2 separate regions of the Homo sapiens genome follow, and region 2 is linked to region 1. The links come from fine-mapping of genetic effects on gene expression. A gene starts in region 1. The other region holds a variant in brackets. All regions are shown on one strand. Distances are between the middles of the regions.

The links. PIP is the estimated chance that this variant, and not a neighbour inherited with it, causes the effect.
Region 2: its variant is the best candidate, but not a certain one, in a credible set for the expression of TEAD4 in cerebellar hemisphere (GTEx, PIP 0.84).

Annotation. Positions count from the first base shown.
Region 1 is chr12:2,956,176-2,961,543 of GRCh38, forward strand. It overlaps TEAD4 (TEA domain transcription factor 4), which reads left to right and starts at 3,222. Exons shown (of 13, transcript NM_003213.4): 1 at 3,222-3,306; 2 at 3,773-3,865. LOC124902859 (a long non-coding RNA gene) reads right to left here and starts at 3,873. Exons shown (of 2, transcript XR_007063159.1): 1 at 3,566-3,873; 2 at 1,423-2,050. RefSeq lists an enhancer at 3,392-4,127.
Region 2 is chr12:2,977,156-2,982,523 of GRCh38, forward strand. The region is part of intron 2 of TEAD4 (TEA domain transcription factor 4); the gene reads left to right. Among named protein-coding and RNA genes, the nearest start is that of TEAD4, 20 kb to the left of the region's middle. RefSeq lists an enhancer at 3,875-4,494. The variant G/C (reference allele first, on the strand shown) is at 2,979.

The sequences.
Region 1 (5,368 bases):
AGGATCCATTTGTAGGATCCAGACAGCTGAAATATTTCCACCAAAAGACTCATTCCTGAGGGTCAGTGAATTAGGGTCCTGTCCCTTAAGAAATGTAAACATCCCTGGGAAGGGCTGATGTGTGGGTAAAATCACCTTGCCTTTAACTCTTCAGAATTTGTACATCTGTTAACTTTCCTTTACCTAGACATTCCTCAACAGCTCCAAGCCTGAGGTCCCCAAAGCTCCAGAGCTCTCCAGGAGACTATAAGGGTATGGGCCAGAAAGTCAAGATCCTGAAGACACACCTTCCCAGCTTGGATCACTGATGGTCTTGGATAGTTAAGACTTAGAGGGAATAAAGATCTCCAAGTTCGTTGTCAGCAGTCTACCCTAACCGTGACACTAGGGTTGCTTTCCTGTTTCTACTCTGGACTCTGTCCTGCTTTCCTCTCCGTCCCCTGAACCTGGCTGGATTCCCCTCCGACCTCACCCCACTCCCCTTTTGCTTGAATTTCTTTCTTTCTTTTTTTTTTTTTTGAGACGGAGTTTCATTCTTTTTGCCCAGGCTGCAGTGCAATGTCGTGATCTCAGCTCACTGCAACCTCCACCTCCTGGGTTCAAGTGATTCTCCTGCCTCAGCCTCCCGAGTAGCTGGGATTACAGGCATGCACCACCACGCCCAGCTAATATTGTATTTTTAGTAGAGATGGGGTTTCTCCATGTTGGTCAGGCTGGTCTGGAACTCCTGACCTCGTGATCCACCCACCTCAGCCTCCCAAAGTGCTGGGATTACAGGTATGAGCCACTGTGCCCAGCCCTGAATTCTTATCTCACTTACTGACACCAACCATTGTTCAGCTGTTAAAGGTTAGCGATTTTTGTTTTCTCTCTCACTACACAGCCAAATGATCTGAACCGTTTCCTAGCTCCTTCCCCTCCTCCTCAACCTCAGGACCACTGCTTGAGTTTTAGGGCACCCCGAGTCTCCAGTTCAACTGCAAGACTGTTGCAAGACGGTCTTCTTGATGGTGCTGCTGATTAAGTCACACTTGTGTCTTTTTTGATGCCTAACTCTTCAGCATGGCACGCAATGACCTTCAAAGTCTGGTATCCACTTCCTTCAATCTTATTATCCACATCTCTATTCTCCAGCCACACCAGTTTACATAGCTTCGCTAAACACACCAGCAGACTGGCTGCCTCACCTTTGTAGGTGCTATTCCATGTGTCTTAAATGGGGTTTCCAGTCTCAGTTTGGCAAACCCTCATTTATCCTCAAGAGCTAGATCAAATGCACTGTAATTGGATTTCACTGTTCCTTCCCTTGGGTTCCCATTGAACTTTGCATAATTGTCTGTCTTCTCACCTAGACTGGAACTACTTGAGGAAAGGGACCTACTCCTTCCCTTAGTGCGGTGTCAAAGTCAACAAACACTCCAATGATTGCTGAATTAATATAATTATTATTAATTACTTTGAGACAGGGTTTCGCTCTGTCATCCAGGCTGGTGTGTAGTGGTGCATTCACGGCTCACTGCAGCCTCAACTTTCTGGGGTCAAACTATCCTCCCACCTCAGCCTCCTGAGTAGCTGGGACTACAGGTGCAGGCCACCATGATGCCCAGGCTGATCTCGAACTCCTGGGCTCAAGCGATCCACCTGCCTCGGCCTCCCAAATTGCTAAGATGACAGGCGTGAGCCACCGGGCCCCCCATGATTGCTGAATTAAATAGTTGGTGCTTAGTGTGTACTTCACGTGGCGCTGATATGCTGCCTTGCGTTTTGGTCTTTTCATGTGCATGAGGTGTGACCAAGCCTTGATATGATTCATTATTTAACAAGAATACCACAATTCATCTATTCAAATGAGGGCTGCGTCTTCAACGCCTTCACCTTGCAGGACTGGATGCTTAGCTCAGTCATTGCTTGAAACACTTTTGGAATACCTCTCTTGGAAACAACTTTGGCATCGATAGCACTTTCCTTTCAATATCTTCCACGGTAGCAATTGTTTTTCATTTATGCAGCATTTATCATGCACTTCCCTATCCCAGGCACCAGGCTGGATCTGTGTGAAAGATAAGATAAATCAGACATTACTCTGTCTTCAAGGAAGTTTCTGTTTGGCAAGGGAGATAAGATCTAGACAACCACCCAACACAAGGCTAAGTGATAATGCCCCAGAAAAGGTTGGATTTGATTTTTGGAAAAAGCCAAAAGTCCTTTGGTTTCAGTCTCCTGGCCAGGTAGATGATGGCGCTACCTGCCAGCACACTGCTTTAAGCCCGTTTGTCCTAAGCGTCTCCAAACAAGGAGCCCAGCGTGTTTCCAGCACCTCCTGCCCCAATAAGAGACTCCTGGGCATGTGTGTCTGAAGTCCAGACTCTCACCGATGGCAGTATACACCGAGGCCTCCCCAGCTAAACTCTGAGCTCTTTGAGGGCAGGTGCTGACGGCTGATCCTGATCTTCACAGTATCTGGACTCATCACACATCTTAGATGAATATTCATTGAGTCACTGAGCCCAGAAGGCGTCCCATGGCATGCCACATGGACTTCAAACCGAGTGCCCTTTCTCCCATGTGGTTTACTCGTAGTGGCGGTTTTACAGATGCCCAAGGGGCAGGAGAGAAAAACGGAAAGAGCTAAAGCCGGGGAGGGCAAGCGAGGGGGCACTGGCAGCGGATCTGGGAATGGAGCCCGCGAGTTCCTGCTTCCTGGTTCCCCGGAGCAAGTGTCCTTTGGTGGGAGCCGCAGGAAGGGAGCAGCCCTTCCTGCGCGCCGGGAGCCCGCCCCTTCCCCGGCCTCCCAGGGACTCGTGCGGAGGGACGCCGGGTGGCGGGGCGGGAGTCTGGGCCCCGTCCACCCCCCCGCCCCCGGGACAGCCCCACCCCGGCGAAGAGGAAGGCTCTCGGCTCCTGGGAAAGGGAGTCGGGACCCCGCCAGGAGGGGAGGGCGCGGGGCGCGCAACGAGCAGCCAAACAGTCGGAGCGGAGAGATCGAAGGGCTAGTGGGCGTGGGGGCCGCAGCCGAGGCCCGGGTGGAGGGGTCCCCGCCGTCCCTCGGCCCCCTCCCCCGCCGCCCGCCCCGGCCCGGCCCGGCCCCGCCCCGCCCCGGCGGCCCGGCCCCTCGCCCGCCCGCGCGCGGCGCAGTCTCCTCCCCGAGGTGCCGGTGGCCCCGCCGCCACTCCCTCCGGCTCCCTCCCTCCCGCCGCGGCGCGCATCTCATTCCAGCCCTCATTCCGCGCATTCCAGCGTCCTCCTCGCACACTCGAGGCCAGGGGGCGGGAGGGCCGCAGCTCCGGCGCCGCCGCGTCCCGCCAGGTGAGAGGCGCCCGCGCCCGCCGCACCCGCCGGCGCCCTCACGGGCCGCGCGCCCCACGCCGCCGCAGCCGACCGCTCGCGCCGCGTGCTCGGCTGCTCTTTTCTTTCCGCCGCCCGCGTTCCCGCCTTGGACCTCTGCGCTCCGACGCGCTCCGTCCCGACCTCTGGCTTCCCTCCGCGCTCCGGCGCTGCTCGCTGCCCCTCTCCCGCTTCCCTCCTGTCCGCCCCGCGCTCCCCTCCTCGCTCCCGGTTGACTCACTCCTCCAGGAATAGGGATCCCCGTGTTTTCCCGTCAGTCCCATTCTGGGAAAACTCCTCCCTCCGCGCGCTCCGCTCCGCTCCGCTGGGCGCACCGGGGCCGGTCGGCGCGGGGTGGGCTTGGCCCCGCGGCCCCGCCTTCACTGCGCCGCCCGTCGGCCCCGGCCGGAGCCCGGCTCTGCGCGCTGACGCCCTGTCGTCCCCGCAGAACGATCGCCGCGGCCGGAAGAGTTGGCGCTCGGGGCGGACTCCTTGGAACTGGCTTAGCGCACCCATCCCACCTTCCCGCACCCTGGGACCGGTAAGGCTGGGGCGCGGGGACTTGGTAGGACTTTGCCGGAGGGCAGGAGTCTGCGCGGTGCGTGCGGAGCTCCCTCCCGGGACGAGACTGGGAAGAGCGAGGCACGTGGAGGCGGCGCGACTGAGGCTGCTGGAGGCGAAGCGGCTCCAGGGGCGGGTAAGGGGGGTGGACACTCGGGACTTTGGGGGAAAGGGAGGCCGGTGTGGAAAGGACCGGAGAGGCAGAACCGAGAGCATCGGCAACAGAAGAGACCCAGCACCCATGCCTCTTTTCTGCTGGGCCCTTTTCGAGCCTGGAAGGGAGAGACCTGGAGGTAAGCGGACTGCCTGTTTTAAGTGCAAAGGCGATGCGAAAGTCGGGGGACCCCTGCAAAAGGTCCTACACCTCAGGGCTTGGGAAGCTGCTGTGTTTCCTGATGGGGACTAGTGGATCGATCCAGGGAGCAGAACTTTCAAACCCCAAAGTGAACATTTCCCCCGTTGTGCTGAGGCACTTGAGGCCCCGCGGACTGACTGCGTCTGTGCTGAGTCTGTGTGACACCTGACTGCGAGTCCCCCTCGCTTTGAGTCTCTGTGTGGGTGATGTCTGTTCACGTGTGGCTCACCTTGGCTTCCAGTGGGCGTATTTGTTTGTGTTGAACGTGAGTGACAGAGTGTGTGTATATGTCTGCGTGAGAAGGGGCTGTCTGAAAGTGAGTATCTCTGAGTAGGTGTGTGATGCCACGTCTCTTGAGTATGTGTTTCTCTTCGAGGATGTTGGTTCTGGCTAGGACTGTTCTTCCTCCCTACATAGCCGTGGGCAAGAGTCAGTGTCTCTGGTTGCCTGAGTGCAGGGATAATTTGACTGTGGTTTTGGAGTGTGTGGCCTCCAGGCTCCGTTTCCCCTGGACCGGGCAGAGCTGGAAGGAAGCTGGCTCCACCTGCCTCTTGGAGCCAGGAGGCTGACTTTCTCAGGGCGAGGGTCTTGTGCTTGCCTGGAATAGGTCAAAAAGCTGGTAGGAGGCTGAAGGAAGTTGAGATCTTTGCCTTTGGGGGATGGGATGGGCGGGTGAGATTTGGGAAGGTTTGTCGGGGTGGATCCCCGGGAAAAGGAGACAGTTTTGAATCTGGAGACTTGTGTAAATAGTGCTTTTAAGTTGCCCTCAAGGACAAACAGGGAGGTATACCAGCCTGAACTACTTTTCCTGGTTTAACTCTCCTCGGAGCTGACCAGGTAACCCAGTAGAAGAATCCCTCATTCTTTCCAACTTGCCAGACACTCAGCACTTCCTTTGAGAAGAGGAATGAGTAGCTTGTTGCATGAGGGCTTCAACGTGGATATCATGTGTAGGGCTTCTTGGAAGGAAGGAGCCAGAAACTGTCTCGGGGGTTGGGGGTTCTCGTCCTTGCTCCTCCATCCATCCTGAGGATGTGGATGTTCTTGTGGGAAACACCTCACCCTCTCACCTCTTCGGCCTGGTGTGCGACTGGTCTAAAAGCAGCACTGATGGAGTGGAAAGGGCAC
Region 2 (5,368 bases), 21 kb after region 1:
TCAGTGGTTGGGAGGACACTGAGGATTAGAGTAGCTTGCTCAGGACTCCCAGGTCCCTGTGAGGCTGGGCCAGGATCTGAGCTCAGGCGTCTTGAGTCCAGAGCCCAAACGCTAAATCTCTGCCCCAGGCGTCTCTCTCTCTCTTTCTCTTTCTCCCCTTCCTGCTCTCTCTCCCTTTCCCCCTTCCCTTCTTTTTCCTCTCTCTTTTGACCAGGCATTGCTCAAGGGGTCCAGCTCTCTGACTTTTGTTCCAACATCTCCTTAGCCTGGGAAGGATTGTGGGGCCTCCCCCCCTCTCACCTGCTCCCCGTTCCCCATCCTGTCCTGAAGCCAGGTGTGATGAAGGCCTCACACCAAAGGATGGCCGGGAAGGTGCTGCCGTGCATTGCCTTGCAGGGGCTTTACTTGCTTTTCTCAATCCTCAGTGGCTCTGCAGGCAGGAATGCTCATCCCCATTTGACAGGTGATGAAACAGAAGCTTTGGGGAGGTTCAGTAAGTTGCTGAACAGCTGTGCAACGTAGCTGGTGAGAGGCAGGTTTCACTCAGGTCATAGGACTCTGAGGCGTCTTTAACATGTCCCGGACTTCACGTGGCCTTTCCCGAGAACTTGTTGCATTTCAGGAGAGGAAGGGGCACTGCTCAGCAAGAGGAAGGCACTCCAGTGGTGGGAGCTCAGGCCCTGGGACACCTAGGTTTTCTTGGTCTTGTTTTCTGAGAAGGGCCCTTTTTTGGCCTCCGGCAGGCCCTGGCCCTTCCGAAATCACAATGGGATCTGTTTGTTTCTAACTGAGTACACAGCCTGGCCCGGCCCAGCCCAACCAAATCCATTTCTCTGCTGGGTTCTTTCCTTCTCCACCAATCCCTTTCCTTCCATCCCTCGGGACTCACCTGCCTGTGACCTGGGGACTCTCCTGTCCTTCTCTTTTCTTTTCCAGCTGTAACCAGGCCCTTTCCTTTGCTCCTGTATTTCGGGCCCAGGTCCCCTGCAGACCCTCTTTTCCTTCTCTGCCCTCTTCTTTTTGTCTTCTATCTCCTGGTGCGCTTTAAACAATTTTTTTGGTGAAATATATGTAACATAAAATTTGCCATTTGAACTCCAAGTGTGCAGTTTGGTGGCATTAAGGACATTCACAATTGTGCTGCAGTCTCCTGCTTCCATCTCCAGAACTTTTTCATCTTCCGAAACTGAAACGCTGTACCCGTTAAACAGTAAGTGCCTGTTTTTTTTTTTTGTCTTTTTGTTTTTTTTTGTTTTGTTTTGTTTTGAGAGGGAGTCTCACTTTACTCACTTTATTGCCCAGGCTGGAGTGCAGTGGTGCGATCTTGGCTCGCTGCCTCCGGGGTTCAAGTGATTTTTGTGCCTCAGCCTCCTAAGTAGCTGGGACTATAGGCCTGCGCCACCGCCCCTGGCTAATTTTTGTATTTTTTAGTAGAGACAGGTTTCACCATGTTGGCCAGGCTGGTCTCGAACTCCTGACCTCAGGTGATCCACCTGCCTCGGCCTCCCAGAGTGCTGGGATTACGGGTGTGAACCACTGCGCCTGACAATGACTGTTAATGTTATGAATGAAACTCCCCATTCCCCCATCCCCAACCCCTGATAGTCTCTCTTCGGCTGTCTCTATGGATTTGCATATTCTCAGTACTTCATGGAAGTGAAATAACATGAGATTTGTCCTTTCATGACTGGCTTGTTTCACTTAGTGCAATGTCCTTAAGGTTCATCCATGTTGTAGCCTATGTCAGAATTTCATGCCTTTTTTGTTTGTTTGTTTTGGAGATGGAGTCTCACTCTGTTGCCCAGGCTGGAGTGCAGTAGTGTGATCTCAGCTCACTGCAACCTCCGCCTCCCTGGTTCAAGCGATTCTTGTGCCTCAACCTCCCGAGTAGCTGGGATTACAGGCACCTGCCACCATGCCCGGCTAATTTTTGTATTTTTAGTAGAGACAGGGTTTCACATTGTTGGCCAGGCTGGTCTCGAGCTCCCGACCTCAGGTGATCTGCCTGCCTCGGCCTCCCAAAGTGCTGGGATTACAGGCGTGAGCCACCGCGCCCGGTCTCATTCCTTTTTAAGGTCGAATCATCCTCCATTACCTGGATGCACCACATTTTGTTTATCCATTCCTCTATTGATGGACATTTGGGCTGCTTCCCCTTTTGACTATCCTGGTGCCTTTTGACATTCTGTGCTCAGGAACAGCAGACAGCACTTCCGCACTATGCTTGGGACCACTTGAGGCAGCAAAAGCACCTGCAAAAGTGCAGAAGTCACAGCACTAAATAGACCCAGAACAAGACACCTGCAGGAGAGCTGACCCAGGTAGACGAAGTGCGGCGTTGCCGACCTCAGCTGGGAGCGTGCGCGTCAGGCAGTGAGAATTTGTGGCTGCTCAGTGCACGCATGTGTCCACAAATGACTGTGAAGATACTGGGAGTAGTGATTTGGGGGTTAGAAATTTTAGCAAGTTGGCAAACTTGCAAGTACAAAATCTGTGACTATTCTGTGATTAATGAGGATTGACTGTACTTGCATCTTCATAGATGACTCTCCCTCCTTCCCTCCTGAGATGACAGCATTAATCCATTCAGCAAGGCCCAATCACATCTTAAAGGCTCCATCTCCCAACATTCTTGTGTTGGGGATTAAGTTTTTAACCCACGAACTTTGAGGGGCACGTTCATACCAGAGCAGCGCCCAATGCCTGTCATATAGTACATGCCCAGTGAACAGTGAGTGAATGAAGGGCACAAGGACTGAAGTACCTGTGCTGAGTTGTTAGGCATGAGAATCAGCAGGGAGAGATCTTTCTGGCAGGGGAGCCTGTTCCTCTCCTCCCTGGGAAGAAGCCCTCTCCTGTGCTCACTGAGAGGCATCCAGTGATGGTCATGGAGGTTGGAATTGTGTGGCAGAAAAGTGCAGGCCTGAGATGTAGTTCTAGTCCCAGTTTTAACAGGTTTTGTGGTCTTTGGCAAGTCA[G/C]TTCACCTCTCAGGGCCTTAGTCTCCTCACTTATACATTGGAGGGCAGTTTTCTTCCCCGAGATTCTTTCCACACAAACCCTGGGAACCCTGCCTCTCTCCGCTGGGACCTTCACTGGAGGCCGTAGGAACAGTGGGGTCCATGCAACGAAAGAGACCAAGAGGTCTTCGTGTCTGCAGAGATGAACTTCTCTAGCTCCCTTAGCCTGCCAATCCAGGCTACCCCTCCCTCCAACTCTGCACATCTAACTTGCATCCCTCGTGCTGCAGAGTCAGATCATCCCCCTTCCTATTGTCAACAGAAGTGTTTGCAAAATAGGCTGGATGTGGTGGCTTACGCCTGTAATCCCAGCACTTTGGGAGGCCGAGACGGGCGGATCACTTGAGGACAGGAGCTCGAGACCAGTCTGGCCAACATGGTGAAACCCCACCTCTACTAAAAAAACAAAAATTAGCTGGGCATGGTGGTGCACGCCTGTAATTCCAGCTACTCAGGAGGCTGAGGCAGGAGAATCTCTTGAACCTAGGAGGCTGAGATTGCAGTGAGTCCATATCGCTCCACTGTACTCCAGCCTGGGTGACAGAGCAAGACTCTGTCTCAATTAAAAAAAAAAAAAGTTGGCAAAATAGGTCAAAGAAGCATCATGGCCAGGCGCAGTGACTCACGCCTGTAATCCCAGCAGTTTGGGAGGGCGAGGCGGGCAGATGTCTGAGGTCAAGAGCGAAACTCCATCTCAAGAAAAAAGCAGCATCATGATGGGCAGGAGGCAGCTTGCAGTGGGGAAGGGCTTCAGAGCCGCAGTCTGAGCCTTGTCTCTTACTGGCTTTGGGCTGGGACACAGCACTTCACCTTAGGAGCCTCAGCATCTTCACCTGCCAAATGGGGCAGTGCAGCTACCTCAAGGGGATGGGGGCAGGATTGGAGGAAGATGTAGTCAAGTGCTTTGCCCAGTGCCTGATGCAGAGTGGGCATTTGAAACTGGCACCTCCTAGTGTTAAAGTAGTAAAACGTGTGTCCCTCAGTGTCCAGGGCACCTCTTTGACACTCAGCCCTCCCACAAGTGCTGGGCTGCCTGTATCCGTCCTGCAGGGTCGCCTGCCCAGTGCACAGGGGCTTGCACTGTGTGAGGAGGCAGCACAGCCCACCCGGCACTACCTGCAGGATAGGTTCTTCTTTCCCGCCCAGGTCCCCTGGCCTCCTCCCTTTGTCTTCCAGCTCCTGAGTTTCCAAGCTTAGTTAGCGTGGAAGACAGCAGACAACTGACTGGCCAGAGTAGCACAGCACATTCAGGCAATCAGTGTAGCAGCTCAGGGGCCTCTGGGAACTGGGGCTCAGGGAACCCTTCAGGGTAGAGGGGGCCTCTCACTGCACCCGCTTGTGCCCTGTACCTACCTCCACCCAAGCCTCTGACACTCCATAGCACTTACCTGTTTGCATGTCTGTCTAGTCTCCCATCCCCATCTGAAGTCTGAGCCCCATGAAGGTCTGGACCCTTTTCTCTAGAGTTTAGTCCAAGAACAGGTACTTCAAGTAAAGAGTTAGTTGATGGACTGTTGGCAGGAATTAAATTAGTACTGAGGCCCACCCTAAGCAGGGAAGCAGTATGAACAGACTTGGGGCTCAGGAGATGGTGAGAAGCCCAGGGGTGCTGGAGGGTAGTGGGGATGCACCTGGAAGAAGGCTGGGGTCTGCTGCTCCTCTTTCACCTGTCTCATTTTAAGAGATGATTTCTCTTAAAATGAAGAGACTTCTCCATTTCTTATTTTGAGAGATGAAGCCCAGTGACCCCCAAAATCAGGGTGTTTTCTTCTGAATTCTCTGTCTCAGCTCTAGAGGCTGGAGGAGTTGTGAGGGGCTTAGGGATCACAGTGGCTGCAGAAGGCTCTGAAAGGAGGGCTCTGGGAGCGTGAGATGGATCGGACTAGGGAGAGGACGTCAGGTTGGCCTGGGGTCTGGTTCTGCCTTTTCTCGGGGCAGGTCCTTTGCCCTCCCTGAGGCTTGGACTCTCCATTTGGAACTTAGCATCCTGATTCCCTTCCTGTCCTGAAAGTGTTTTTGGAGGAGCTTACTGTTCTGAGTATTAGGGAGATCTTAATAAAAGCCCATACATTCCTGATCCTTCTGGAAATTCCTGAGTAATTAGCACCTGTGGGCCCTAGGATGGAGCAACCTGCTGTCTTCTGGGGTTGCCCTGGGGGCTACCCTGTAGCTTTTGGTTGGGGCTGAGGCAGAGTAGAGGCTCCTGGGCTGGGCCCTGAGAACCAAGTCTGGGATTATTTTTACTCTTCTGTTCACAGCGCATGGCCCAGCTCCACGATGCCATCTGTCCCCCGCCTCCAGCTCTCCCCTGGCAGGCCCTCCTGGGTCACTGTGGTGCACTTGGGGAAGGA